Homo sapiens: one gene and its partners. The protein of the gene in region 4 purifies or fractionates together with the protein of the main gene of each other region. This does not show direct contact. Each region holds a gene or a part of one and is shown on either strand. Other genes may lie near its edges.

What was found. Proteins that work in one complex are often made in the same cells at the same time.
Region 1: the proteins of TCN2 (region 4) and DNAJC3 purify together in Homo sapiens (affinity purification with mass spectrometry; one large-scale study listed by BioGRID and IntAct). This does not show direct contact.
Region 2: the proteins of TCN2 (region 4) and INTS1 purify together in Homo sapiens (affinity purification with mass spectrometry; one large-scale study listed by BioGRID and IntAct). This does not show direct contact.
Region 3: the proteins of TCN2 (region 4) and CLTCL1 purify together in Homo sapiens (affinity purification with mass spectrometry; one large-scale study listed by BioGRID and IntAct). This does not show direct contact.

Annotation. Positions count from the first base shown.
Region 1 is NC_000013.11:95,680,076-95,683,700, reverse strand, and holds part of DNAJC3 (dnaJ homolog subfamily C member 3 precursor), read right to left. Parts: intron 1-3,625. UniProt on the Homo sapiens protein: Involved in the unfolded protein response (UPR) during endoplasmic reticulum (ER) stress.
Region 2 is NC_000007.14:1,480,328-1,483,952, forward strand, and holds part of INTS1 (integrator complex subunit 1), read right to left. Parts: intron 3,527-3,625; coding exon 3,415-3,526; coding exon of another isoform or gene 3,374-3,414; intron 2,381-3,373; coding exon 2,219-2,380; intron 1,162-2,218; coding exon 1,015-1,161; intron 607-1,014; coding exon 508-606; intron 115-507; coding exon 1-114. UniProt on the Homo sapiens protein: Component of the integrator complex, a multiprotein complex that terminates RNA polymerase II (Pol II) transcription in the promoter-proximal region of genes.
Region 3 is NC_000022.11:19,218,658-19,222,282, forward strand, and holds part of CLTCL1 (clathrin heavy chain 2), read right to left. Parts: intron 3,437-3,625; coding exon 3,294-3,436; intron 2,955-3,293; coding exon 2,720-2,954; intron 1,351-2,719; coding exon 1,228-1,350; intron 1-1,227. UniProt on the Homo sapiens protein: Clathrin is the major protein of the polyhedral coat of coated pits and vesicles. Two different adapter protein complexes link the clathrin lattice either to the plasma membrane or to the trans-Golgi network.
Region 4 is NC_000022.11:30,610,053-30,613,677, reverse strand, and holds part of TCN2 (transcobalamin-2 isoform 1 precursor), read right to left. Parts: intron 2,808-3,625; coding exon 2,615-2,807; intron 806-2,614; coding exon 636-805; intron 1-635. UniProt on the Homo sapiens protein: Primary vitamin B12-binding and transport protein. Delivers cobalamin to cells.

The DNA of each region.
Region 1 (3,625 bases), on a different chromosome or scaffold from region 4:
TCCACCTCGGCCTCCCAAAGTGCTGGGATTACAGGCGTGAGCCACAGTGCCCAGCCGGAACTGGGTAATTTATAAAGAAAAGAGGTTTAATTGGCTGACGGTTCTGTAGGTTGTACATGAAGCATGGCTGGGGAGGCCTCAGGAAATTTACAATCATGGCAAAAGGTAAAGGAGAAGTAGGCACATCTTCACATGGCCAGAGCCGGAGGAAGACAGAGAGGGGGGAGATACTGCACACTTTTAAACAACCAGATCTTGTGAGAATTCTATCACAATAACAGCTCTGGGGGATGGTGCTAAACCATTAGAAACCACCCCCATGATCCAATCACTTCCCACCAGGCCCCAGATCCAACACTGGGGATTACAGCTGAACATGAGATTTGGGTGGGGCACAGATCTAAATCATACCACCCCACCATTACACAATATACCCATGTAACCTGCACATGTATATCTTGAATCTAAAATAAAATAAAGTTAAACAAAAAAAAAGATTCTGCCCTCAAATGCTGGCTCCTTTGTGAAACCTTCCCTCACACTGTATTGTTTTGAGAGAGGGAAAAAAAGCTCCTTCAATCTTCCTATATTTTGCATTTCCACACTCAGAAGTACATGACTTCACTTTGCAATATCACTCTCTCTATATATTGCTTTTCACAATTTGCCTGCTTCTCAAAGTCCCAACTCCACAAAACTTATCAAAAGCAAGTTTGAGAGGAGGAGCTGTCTTTTCTTCTTTGTATCACCTAATTCAGTATCCCGCACATAGTGGGTATGCAATATTTGTTGAATGAATTTAACTATTTGCCTTTTTACTTAAACGTATTATAATTCATCAGAATAAAATCTAAAATACATAACAATTATCAAGTCAAACATATGATCAATGATTCATAAAGACACATCTGAAAAATCAAATTATTTGCGAATTATTGGCTGTTTTTGCAATCCACTCTCTTTTGAGCCACAGGTAATTTTTATTCCTTTGCCACATGGTCTGTAAACATTATTTTCAGAGAGGTAAGACAACCAAACATCATGCCATTTCCTAATCAGCATTAGACAATAGGTTTCTCCTTAGACAAGCAGTGATCATAAGTCAGCAAAATAAGCAGCAAGGGCAGGGAAAAAGGTAGAGTAGCCAACTATGTCTTTCACTGAAATTAGTATTAGAATATCTTATATTTTGGAGAGCAGAAAATAAGGATTTTTTTAAACTTAAAGGTGGGGGGTTAAAGGTATGACGTGAGTTACAATCAAGACTGGAAGAACCAGACTAAAGGAGGCAAGAACTCATAGTCAAAGATACTAAAGTTCAAGCAAAGGCGGTGGCAGACCCAGACCAGAGAGCAATCCCAGAGAGAGAGATGGTTATTCAGGTTGGAGCACTTAGAATATGAGGAATGAGGAAAGCCCTAAGTTTCTTCTCTAAAAAAGAACAGAAGGCTAAGCCAAGACTCTAGCAAGGTGGGGTAGAGTCTAAAAGAAGTCTTGTAGCAGAAACACAGAAGACAGTGGAATCTAGCCAAAGAAAGATAGTACAGGAAGTTCAGCATCTACTATTATCTGAATGTTCTCTCCAAAATTCAGGTTGAAATTTTTTTTATAAATTACTCAGTCTGTGGTATTTTGTTATAGCAGCACAAAGATACAACTGTAGGAGCAACATTTTCAGAAGGTGAGAGGAAATGGAATCCAGGGTGTAAGTACACAGATTAGATTTATCTGGGAATAGAGACATTTAATGTATTTCAATATGAGAAAAAGTAGCAGAATAGGTACAAATGTAGATAAGCTAGTGAATTTTGAGGTAGAAAGAAGAACTTGCCTTGTGATGGCTTTCATTTTCTCAGTAAAGACAAGGTCTAAAAGAATGAGGTAGGGGAGAGAGGAAAGGAGAGTTTAAATTAGAGGCTTCAGAAAGGAGGAAAATGTTTGAAATATTGATTTTCAAGAATAGACATAGTAAAGAATTGTGGGAGTGTTAGCAGTATTTAATGTGCATTTGCGACTGAGATTGTTTCTTTAAAATGAGACTAATCAGGGCCAGGTGCATTGGCTCGTGCCTGTAATCTCAACACTTTGGGAGGCCAAGGGATGAGGATTGCTTGAGCCCAGGAGTTCAAGACCAGCCTGGGCAACATAGAAGACCCTGTCCCTACAAAAAATTTTAAAAACTTAGTAGGGGATGCAGTGGTGCATACCTGTGGTCCCAGCTATTCAGGAGGCTGAGATGGGAGGACTGCTTGAGCCCAGGAGGTCAAGCCTACATTGAGCTAGGATCATGCCACTGCACTCCAGCCTGGGTGACAGGGCAAGACCTTGTCTCGAAAAAAAATTGAAAATAAAAATAAAGATAAATGAGACTAATCAGCAAAGTTGTCTCCATTTTCCTCCGTCCGTGTTTACCTATAAGGTATAAAAACAGTTGGCCAAGTTGAATTTAACCAGTGTTGGGTTTTGGCAGGTGAGTAAAACAGAAGATTACAGGGGCCAGAAAATAAATGGGCATTTGCAGTACACTAACTACAATAATGGACCACTCAGTCTAAAGCGGGAAAGGAGAAAAAGAGGACGTGAATGCTTCACAAATGCATGTCTTAAACCCTAAGTGGTCTGTAAACTCAAAAGCAAAAGCCATGAGTTCTATGCTACGTATATATACCTCACCAAAGAGCAATATAGTTAGTAAAAGCCTTTGCTGACTGATTAAATGAGTCTTCTCCATATTCCAGAACTCCAAATGATACAAACTCATCAGATTTAATTTTTTTAAGTAGCTTTCTAAAGATATGGAAAGAAAAATAAATCTATGGTTGAAATGTTTGCGTTCTGAAGAGCAGGTGAATGGGTTCCCATGATACTTCCATATAAACAAAGATTAACTGCAGGACACTAATCAAAAGAGACCACAGCAGTAGAAATTAAACTTAACAACAATTAATTAACTTCATATGGGAAAATAAAACCTAATTACTACAGTGCATCCCCTCCCAGAACAACTTCCCCTACCTCACAGAATGAAAACCACTGCATTTCCAGGCAGTTTCTCAGCAAATACTAACTATGTCAAGAGAACTGGAACTTTGATACTACTGCTAACTACAGCCTATCTTATTAAAGAATTTAAAATAATTCTAGAAAATATGTGACCACCTTTTATGATACTTAATTTATTTAAATTACTTAAAGTCACTCATTTTTGCTACTTTATTCTTTCCCTATTTAGATAATGTCAAGAAAATCCTAGAAAAGACAAAACATACCTTTAATAGGTTAGGTTCAAATAAAACTTATCATGGTTCAAATAAAACTTATCACAATATTTTATACGTATAGATTTTCAACTATATATTTTCAACTATTCTTTTCCCCATGGCCAAAATATATGGTTTAATCAGCTCAATGAAATAAAGAAAAATTGGGTCCAGATAGCATGTTAAGGAAGAAAAAGAGATAAAACTATGATAAGAGAAAAAAGGTTTCGTTCCCAGGCTGTGTTGCTACTCAAGTCACCAAGAGGACAAACCATTAGCAAAGAAATGAAATAACTTCCTTATCTGTAACATGAGAATACTAAAGCAGATACTACTAAAGTTTTCTTTCTATTCCAAAAATTCGA
Region 2 (3,625 bases), on a different chromosome or scaffold from region 4:
TGCCAGCCAGGTCGTCCTCAGGGCCCAGCACCCGGAGCTGGGTCCCCACCCGAATCCGGCCCTGGCCTATGGGCTGCTCTGGGCTGCTCTTTGGTTTGGGTGCCTCTGTGCTGTCTGCAGAGACAGGAGAACTGTCAGTGGCTGGACACTTTCTGACCTGCTTCCAGCGGTGGGAACTGTACAAGCCATGGCGAGTCCTGCCCGGGGACTGTCACCCAGGAGGAAGAGCTCAGACCTGGGCTCTGTGTTCCCCAAGGACCCCAGGTCTCGCTCAGGTCCACAGGGATCTCAAGACTCTGAACAGGAACGTGCATGCTGGCCAGAGGCAAATGCTGCCCAAAGACAGGCTGAGAGTTTCTGTGGGGGCCCCTCTCAGGTGGCATCAGCAAGTGTGCACTGCCCTGTGTGGCTGTGCAGGCCCCGTCCCCCTCCCCAGGCTGGGTCTCTGTGTTGGCCCCACCCCTCCCCAGGCTGGGTCTCTGTGCTGGCCCCACCCCTCCCCAGTACCTCGGCGGGGCGGCAGGGAGGCTGTGAGCAAGGAGTGGAAAGTCTGGCCTCCGGAGGCGCCGCGCTCATGCTGGACCTCCACCAGGTGGGCCATGTAATCTGCAAACCGTAGCAGGGTCACACCTGGGCGCGGCCAGGGGCCAGGGAGCAGGTCCTTCCCTCTCCACAGAAACCAGAGTTGGAGATGCCCCCACCGTCACCAGCACTTCCCAAGGACTTCAGAAGCTGGGTGAGCTCAGTCAGCACTGAGGCCCCAACAGCTCCCTCCAAGCTCAAAACACGGCCCTAGGGGGTGCCTGGCCCCAGGGTTGGGGCAGGCCCAGGCCTCGGCTCCCTCCTGACTGTGCCAGCCTCACCAACCCACAGGTCTAAGCCTGCCCTCGAGTGCCACCCACACCCACCCGACCTCGGATCACCCACCCGCTCGCACCCAGGCCCCAAAAGCCTGGCCGGGCTGGGGCTCGGTCAGCGTGTGTGAACCCACTCCGCAGGTCCCTGGCATCTTACTCTTGTCCATGATGTTCTGCTCCAGAGTCTGGGGGTCGTGGGCCACTGCCTGGTCCAGGAACTGGAGGAGTTTGCTCATGCTGGACACGGGGATGCCAAACGACTGCACGAACAGCAGCAGCTGCTGCGGCTCCAGGTCCTGCAGGGCTGAGGGTGCACGCGCTCCGTAACGCCACCCAAAACCCGGGCAATGCGCACTCGGGACCCCACCCGAGACCTGGGGCTGCCTGTGTGCAGTGACCCCACCCACCTGAGACCCTGGGCCACGTGGGCTCGGTGACCCCACCCAAGACCTGGGGCAGTGCACACTCGGCAGCCCCACCTGAGACCCTGGGCCACGTGGGCTCGGTGACCCCACCCAAGACCTGGGGCAGTGCACACTCGGCAGCCCCACCCGAGACCTGGGGCAGTGCACACTCGGCAGCCCCACCTGAGACCCTGGGCCACGTGGGCTCGGTGACCCCACCCGAGACCTGGGGCCGCACAAGGGGGCAGCGTGTCGGGACCACCTTGCACCCTGGATGGCAGCTGTGTGGGCCCCATCCCCAGGGGTGGGTGGGCGCTCCAGAGGGCCTATGGTGGCACGGCGCAGTACACTTCCGAAGCTGCACGCAGGCTGCTGTGACTATCTTCTCTCAGTGCTCAGGGCGCTCTTGCCCCGAAGCCATCGGTGGCTTCCGGGGGCACACAACAGCCTAGACCCCTTGGCAGTCATGGGTTTCCAGAGCCAGCCCCACTCACTCACCAAGCTGCCCCCAGTGTCTCCTCACTGTGAGCAGGCACCAGCCCTACTGACCTACGTGGGCCCAGGCCCCTTGCTCAGTCCTTGCTGGGGTCCCCGGCTGCAGCTCCAACCCCCAAATCCTTCAGGGACCCACCCAGAGGCCCCACCACTTCTCCTCCTCCTCTCCAACCCCAGACCACTTTCTCTTTTTTCCATCGAGGACCTGTTTCTCACTCTAGACCCCTGAGCCTGACAGTAAGACCCTCTCGGACGGGGCCAGCACAGGCTGCCCTAGGTCTCCTCCCAGGGTCCAGCACAGCCTGCTGTGGCCAGGACATATGGTCTGCAGGATCCCCTGAGGCTACCCGGCCAGTCTTCTCCTCTGCCACAGCCGGAGGCTGCCCAGGCCCACAAGGAGCAGGCAAGGGGCCCGGGACCCCTGAGTCAGCAGCCCCTGCCCAAGCCCAGCCTGGACCGTACCGGCGTCCACCAGGCGGAGCACCTCAGAACGGATCATGCGCAGCTTCAGCCAGTCAGGAAGCAGCAGCGCCTCCTCCGATGTGTCCACCAGGAAGGCGGTGGGCAGTGGCTTCTCCTCCGGAAACCAGATGTCCAGCAGCGCCTGGAACTCGCTGTCGTCGGCTTCAGGAAGGACAACGGGTGAGCAGCCTTCAGACCCACCGGGGCCCAGCCCCAAGCACCGCTGGTGCCAAGGCTAGAGGCACCTCCTCTCCCGAGAAGGAAACTGAGACTTGGGAGGAGCACGGGGCTCCTGTGCTAGGTGAGCACTTGCTATGTGCGGATGCTTTGCGTAGGTGCACGCATTTGATCCTCACAGATGCTGCAGGAAGGCAAGCAGCATCACTGCCATTTTGTCGTGGCCAAGGGGACATGTGCGTGTCCCCATCCAGCCCCTGCCCTCGGGGCTTTGCTTGGCTGGACCAGGTCCCATCCAGCTCTCTGGCTCCGCAAAGCCACTGGGAAACCCCACAGGCCCAGGCCCACACAGGGCCAGCTTCTCCGGCTGCCCTTCCCAAGGGCGACGCCTGTGACTGTGTCTGCCTCCCAACAGGGGTCACCACCCACCCACGTCCACCCGAACCCCAGCATGAGGGTTCCGCCCCCTTCCCCCACTGACAGACACAACGGGGTGAACGTGGGAGCAGTTCATGGTGTCAGCCAGGAGTAAAGGGGAAGGCTGCGGCCGCAGAGGGCACGGCTGGGTAGGCGCTGGGTTCCAGACACTGCGCTGGCCAGAGCGTCCTCAGGGTCACTCGCCTGGGCCCCGGGGAGAGGACCCACTTGCCTGGCAGCCTCATGTCGCACCTCCACACGGTGAAATCCCGAGTTTGCCGCCTCCCAGGCACCGCAGGCCTACACGGTTAGGCTGGGGCAGTGAGGACTCTGACCCCAGGCTGTACCAGGCCCTCCAGCTCAGGGCTCTACAGGCTGGGAGGTCCCACCACGTGGGGATCTCCCACACGTCCACCAAGTGCTCAGAGACACGCGGGACGGACTGCAGCCTCCTCTTTAGGAGAGAAGCCAGGACACAGGGTTGAAGGGCTGGGGGGCTTCCCGCCCAGAAGCAAGGCAAGGATGCGGAAGCCGCTGGGTGTGGTCAGGGCTGTGGCCCACCTGGCACGAAGCTGCCCCTCCCGGGGCCTGTGGCGGCTCACCTCGAGGCGGGCCCAGCGTCAGCAGGATCACCATGGCATGGACCACGAGGATGTGCATGGTGGCTGTCTCCCCGCTGCTCCAGCGTAGGAAGACCTGGTCCTGAGACTCCGACTGTGGGAAAAGAGGTGGAGTCAGGCCGTAAGGTTCAGGGACCCTGAGCCAGCGCCGAGGGTACCCAGCTGGCACCGAGCGTGCCGTGCAGCCTCACCC
Region 3 (3,625 bases), about 11 Mb from region 4:
TCTTGCCCCACCCCTAAACAGTCTGCCTAGCACCTAGGGACAGTGCTGAGGGCAGCAGAGGCACTATCTGCAAATGTCTGTGAGGCTATAACTGGAGAGGAGGCTCTTCCACAGGGCTGTGGGAAGCCCTCCCAGAGGCCGAGGCAGACTCCCACCTGCCAGGCCATACCCAATAATGACCCCTGGCCCCAGCACTCTGCCCAGTCTCCAAGGAGGTGCTGGATAGTCACAGGGGCATAAAGAGCACCTCAACAAAGGGAAGTCAGCTGAGACAACCTTGAAAGCTACTTCACCTCTGTCCACGAGGGCTGAGCTGGGCCCAGCATGCAGGCATGACACCAGGTACTCTCTTCCTGGGCTGCATATCCCTGCTTTGGATCCAAGGGCCAACTCTATGCCCTTGGCCAGTTAACAGTTCCAAGTCAGCTTACCCTGGGGAATCAAGCTATTTTTAGGCAAGCTATTTCTGCAGGGGAGAAGGTTCGTAAGGACTAAGATGTTTTATTTATTTATTTATTTATTTATTTATTTATTTATTTAATTTTTTTGAGACAGAGTCTCACCCAGTTGCCCAGGCTGGAGTGCAGTGGCGTGCAGTCTCGGCTTTCTGCAACCTCCACCTCCTGGGTTCAAGCGATTCTCCTGCTTCAGCCTCCTGAGTAGCTGGGATTACAAGCATGCGCCACACAGTGTGTTTTCGTATTTTTAGTAGAGATGGGGTTTCACTATGTTGGCCAGGCTGGACTTGAACTCCTGACCTCAAGTCATCCACCCGCCTCGGCCTCCCAAAGTGCTAGGATTACAGGCGTGAGCCACCATGCCTGGCCTATTTATTTATTTTTTTGAGATGGAGTCTCTGTCTGTCGCCCAGGCTGGAGTGCAGTGGCACGATGTCGGCTCACTGCAACCTCCACCCCCTGGGTTCAAGCAATTCTCCTGCCTCAGCCTCCCAAGTAGCTGGGATTACAGGCGTGTGCCACCATGTGCGGCTAATTTTTGTATTTTTAGTGGAGATGGGGTTTCACCACGTTGGCCAGGCTGGTCTTGAATTCCTGAGACCTCAAGTGATCCACCCACCTCCGCCTCCCAAATTGCTGGCATTACAGGCGTGAGCCACTGCCCTCAGCCAAGATGTTTTAAATTAAAAATGAAACCAGTCACTTGAGCCACAATGATGATCGGACGGCAAAATGCAGGTGTGCAGACATACCCATCTCTGTGCCTCACCTGGTCAATTAGCTGTCTCCTGGATGGGTTGGTCTCCTCAAGGACGTGAGCCCAGAGCTCCGGATCCTTTCTGCATACCAGGTAGCGGGCCTCGCTTTTGAACAGAGAATTCTCATTGCACACCTGAAATGAGCACACTCATGTGTGTGACACAGCAGCCAACCAGCGGAAGCTGCTTGGGAGGACACACCCCAATTCGTTCCCTGTGTGCCTGATACTGGTTTGGTGGACAGTCAGGGCCCAGGCAAGACGCTATGCTTTGACATGGGATGAGCAGCATCCTACAGGGTTAACGATGGACTCAAACTACCTCAAAATGCCCTTTCCAAGTTTACAACAACTCCCAGGGATGTGCCACATATCTGGCCAGTAGGACTTCCTGCATTCAGGGACATGCTCTGTCTCCCATTCTGTCTGATACAGCCACTAGCCATGGGAGGCTACTGAGCCCTTGAAATGTGGTGCGTGACAGGAACTAAACTGGTAATTTTTAATTTAGTTAAATTTAAGTACTCATATGTAGCTAGCTTTAAACCATCTGTAAAATGTTATCAGAACAGCCTAGAACTGGTATAAAACAGCACAAACACTGCAATGTTTCAAGATCTAAAAACTGTAAACTGTGCTTTCACTGGTAGATCTGGAGACCTTTTTCTGAATGTTATAACAGATCTCCAAAACACCAACAGTCCACTGGAATGTTCTAGCGTGTGCAGCACTTGCTAAATCCTGGTGAGGATCAGATCTGTTGAGTGCCAGATGCCCGGCACAAGGCTGAGCGGCGTGCACACGTGCTTGCGGATGCAGCGCAGTCCGCCTGTGTATCACAGGAAAAGCCCAAGCAGGCTGGTGTGGCACCAACCTCACAGGTGCCCTATTCATGTCTGGATTTTTAGATCAAATGATTAGGTAGGAACAGTTCATACAATTCAACCTAAACATGTAATTATATGTGGATCCAAGCCTGGGCAGATGCAGGCAAAAGACCTGGGCAGATGTCTCAAGGAGAGGCCAGCAAGAGCTCATTGGTCAGGTGATGGGGAAGGGCTTGTGTAGAGGGTTACCCCAAAAAGGGGGCATGAAGTACAAGGGTACTCGGGACATGAGGCACCCAGGGAATTGCAGGCCTCTCCAGGTGGGGTGGCAAGATGGATGGCTGATCAAGTTCGGGAGTTGGGAAAGGTGGCAGTCCACAGAGGAGCTCACGAGTCAGGCCAAGGAGTTCAATTCTGCCCTCAAATTGCCAGGCAATAGTAAGGACTGTAAGCAGAGGGATGATAAGTCAGGTTCAGGACCAACTGGTCTACAGGTACAATGCATACAAATTGCATGAGCAAGTTCCCAAAAGCTGTGAGAATCACAAGGAAATAATCTCATGACCTGCCATCTCCAGGTGCACAGAAAGCCCTGATCAGCTCCCCACAGGCACACCTTTGAAAGCTTCCCTGGGAGCCCAGGGTTACATGGGCAGCTCAGCACATCTGCTACCCACCTTGATGAGCTCAAGGTCACACTGCCCCCGCTCATAGGCAACACAGGCCAGATGGGGGTCTCGCTTCTCACAGTAGCGGCCCACCACGCTGCTGTCATAGTAGGCATTCTCTCTCAGGAAGCACTCGGGGCTGTTGTTGCTGTCGATGTAGATTTTAGCCAGTGCATTGTGAGTGGCAGGCTCCTCACAGCCTTCCTGAATCTGGGACTCCAGCCAGGGAAGCAGCAGCTTGAGCCTTTGAAAGAAGGAAGGTGCTGTAAAGTCTCAAGGCTACCACTGGAAGTCTTGAGGGCAACTCCAGGGCTCTGACAGATGTTTCCTGAAACAAAAAATCTCAGAGTCCATTGACTTCAGGTTGCTCTAGGGACCAAGATGGACCTGGTTTCCAAACTGATTTCTACTGTTAGGTTTTCCCCCAAGGTCTTCACAGTACCAATAGCAAGTAACTCATTGCTACATCTAAGATGTGTACATGAACGACCAGCTATAGAGACAGTCCTGGAGAATTAGACAGAAACAACAACAGACACTAGAATCCAGGGGTAAGAGAAAACACCAAGTAAGGACACCTTACCTATTTCTTTTTTCTACTTCAGCCACCAACTCATCAGTAGAGAACTGTCCTCTCACTGCCATGATTAAGTGTTTAATCACTTCCTCAGAACAATCCACATCAAGCAGCCCTCCAATCACAGCTGGGGTCCGGCTAGGGTTGACCTAGGGTAGTCAAGGTCAAGTAACTTCAGTGTTGCAAACACAAGTTATTGTTAGAAGCCTCCTACGACGTGGACAGTTTGGGCAAAACCCTGAAAGGGCTCCTGTTTAGCACTGCGCTGTGTCCCACCAAAATTCACCTGCTGATGTCCTAACCCCTAGTGGGATTCTACTTGGAAAGAGGGTGTTTAA
Region 4 (3,625 bases):
GACAGACTATGGCGTAAGTCATAAGCAGGCTGTCCAGTTGTCCCGAAGGTGGATAATCAAGTCAATCTTGGTGGCTAGCCAATACAAGGCTTGTCAGTGGGCCTAACGCAGTGGCTCATGCCTGTAATCCCAGCACTTTCGGAGGCTAAGGCAAGCGGATCACCTGAGGTCAGGAGTTCGAGACCAGCCTGACCAACATGGAGAAACCCCACGTCTACTAAAAATACAAAATTAGCTGGGTGTGGTGGCGCATGCCTGTAATCCCAGCTACTCAGGAGGCTGAGGCAGGAGAATTGCTTGAACCCAGGAGGCAGAGATTGCGGTGAGCTGAGATTGCGCCATTGTACTCCAGCCTGGGCAGCAAGAGCAAACCTCCAACTCAAAACAAACAAACAAACAAAAAACAAAAAACCACGAAACACACCTGTCAATAGTATGTGTGCAGCGCGGGAAAAGCTGGGTCAAGGATGGCTATGGGGACAGGTTCGAGCCTCTACGTAGGCAGTGAGATGGGCAGAATGGATGGTGGGAAAGACGCCTGGGGAGAAAACCCAAAGTTCTGATTCTCATTGGAGAATATCATCTGATGAGCCCTCCCAGCTGCTCCCCACCCCCAGCGGATGGTGTCTGCTCACCAATGGCTCTCTTCTCATCCTCCAGGAACCATTTGAGCTGTGAGACCAGCCTGTCCCCCTTGTGGCCCCTGACAAACTCACAGTTGGCTCTGAGAGCGAGCAGGTAGAGGGCCAGCTGGCCCATGGAAGGCTTGCCCTGGCAGTCACCGTCATCCTCGCTGAAGGCAGACCTAGGACAAGGCCAGTTAATGCCTTTGTGAGAAACTGCCACCCCGTAAGCCTGCTTACAGCACCCACCCCACCCGCATCACAAAGCGGGAAAAAATCTTAACAGTGGGAAACTTTGATAAAAGCTCCAAAAGGAGGTGTGTTGGCTATGTTGTTGTGAGGTGTATGCCACAAATATTTAATAAAGATGAACAGTTAGATTCAAGAATAAACTCCAAGGGCTCCTGTGTCCAGATCATCTGTGCCTGCCCCACTATTTTGTCCATACTTCACCCATATGCCCCCTCCTTTTTTATTTTTTTATTTTATTTATTTATTTTCTTTGAGACAGAGTTTCGCTCTTGTTGCCCAGGCTGGAGTGCAGTGGCATGTTCTCAGCTCACTGCAACCTCCGCCTCCCGAGTTCAAGCGATTCTTCTGCCTCGGCCTCCCAAGTAGCTGGGATTACAGTTGCCCACCACCACCCTTGGCTAATTTTTTGTATTTTCAGTAGAGACAGGGTTTCACTATGTTGGCCAGACTGGTTTCGAACTCCTAACCTCATGTGATCTACCTACCTTGGCCTCCCAAAGTGCTGGGATTACAGGCGTGAGCCACCACACCCAGCCATATTTTTATTTTTTTTTTTTACTGAGATAGGGTCTCTCTGTCTCCCAGGCTGGAGTGCAGTGGTGCCACCATGGCTCACTGTAGCCTCGATTTCTCAGCCTCAAAAGATCCTCCCACCTTTGCCTCCGGAGAAGTGGGGACCACAGGCATGAGTCACTACACCTGGCTCATTTTTTTTCTTTTTCTTTTTTTTAAGAGATGTGGTCTCACTATGTTGCCTAGGCTGGTCTCAAACTCCTGAGCTCAAGCAATCTTCCTGCCTCAGCCTCCCAAAATGTTGGGATTACAGGTATGAGCCACTATGCCTAGTCTTCTTTTCTCTCCACCCCTGCATCCACTTCTCAAGAGGGAGTCTGAGAAAGAGGCACTCCATGGCTGATTCTTCGCCTCTCATTCAAACCCCAAAACAGGCCTCTCTGTGATGCCTCTTGAAAAGGGAGCACAAAGATGCTGCTTTTGGATTGGTGCAGTGGCTCATGCCTATAATCCCAACACTTTGGGAAGCCAAGACAGGCGGATCACCTGAGGTCAGGAGTTCAAGACCAGCCTGGCCAACATGGTGAAACCCTATCTCTACCAAAAATACAAAAATCAGCTGGGCATGGTGGCACACGCCTGTAATCCCAGCTATTCAGGTGGCTGAGGCACGAGAATCACTTGAACCCGGGAATTGGAGGTTGGGGCAAGCCAAGATTGTGCCACTGCACTCTAGCCTGGGCAACAGAGTGAGAGGAAAGAAAAGAAAAGATGCTGCTTCTGGGCTCAGTATGAAAGAATGCGGTCATGGATTACTGATGTCTGCCTCATGCATGGGAGGGGAGCATACAGAGTCAGATGCTGCTTCTAAGCTCAATGTAGAAGACTGCAGTCATCGATTAGTGATATCTGCCTCAGGCACACTAAGGGAGCATAGAGTCAGATGCTGCTCCTGGGCTCATCATCAAAGAGTATAGTCACGGATTAGTTATGTCTGCCTCAGACACATGATGGACAGTAGTAGCAAAAGGAGCCTTGCATTAGCATCTCTGATCTAATCCAACCAACCCCTTCATTCTATAGATGGACAAAGGTCCTCCATTCTATAGATGGAGAAAATTTGCCTAAGGTCTGCCCACAAAGTGGTGACAGGCCCAAACTAGTACCCAAGTTTCCCATCTCTTAGTATGTGGAGCAAGACATGGAAAAAGAGAGTGTGGCAATACCCTAGGAGGCACTGCTGGTAACCAAGCTTGAGGCTGTGCAGGTAGAGGTCTTCCTTGGTCCCAGCCTGCAGACTGGAGAGGCGTAGGCCCACATAGATGCTGGGGTTCAAGTGCTCCAGGGAAAGCCGGTCCATCCAAGGTAAGAGGTGCTGGCCCAACTTCTCTACCAGATGGCTGTCCATCTCTGGTATTTCTTAGAAAAGAAAATGGTACAAATGAGGTCACAGGGCCAGGCCACCAGCAAAGAAGTGCTTTGACGTTACCAGGGCCTTCTCCAGAGAATACATGTCCTCACCCCCACCTCCACCCAGCACACACCAACTTGCAGGGGGAAATGCAGCCATACTGAAAGGCAGTGGGAGGAGAAAAGAGGGGAAGCGTGTATCTCTAAAGAGCAGTTGGAGTGAGCCAGCAAGAGAGGTGGTGGGCTGAAGATAGAGGATGCTACTGCCAGGCAACCACTCTGCCCATCAGCAGTGACAGTGAGACTGGTGTGCCCGGGCACCTTGCCCAATCTCACTTGGTCCTCATGCCAGTCCTGTGATGTAGATACTGTCATCATTGCTTTGCACAGAAGAGGAAACAGAAGTTCAAAGTCGTGTCATGTCTTACACAAGGCTGCAGAGCCAAGGATGGACCTAACTGCAAAGCCCCCGCTCTTTGGTGCCCTGCTGAATGTGTGTGCTACCCGTTTACAAAAACATCAGCCCACATGCAGAACGTGTTACACATCAAATTTCCAAACAACGCAAACTTCCAGCTGGTGAATTGAGGCTGCCTGGTGAACTTCCTCCATGCAGATCTCAAAATAACGCCTTTCCTGCCATCTCTGTTTAAATGAAGAGGACCTGAGATTGTGAGATGAGCTCTTAGAAAACAGTCACAGCTTGCAGCCGTTTACCTGTTGCTGTGGGATTTATTCGAAGCTGTGCAACGAAAATACTCAAACACTCTGGAAGCGGAAGCCTTAGGGATAGTTCCAAGGGACTTGAGCTCAGCACAGGGTAGCTT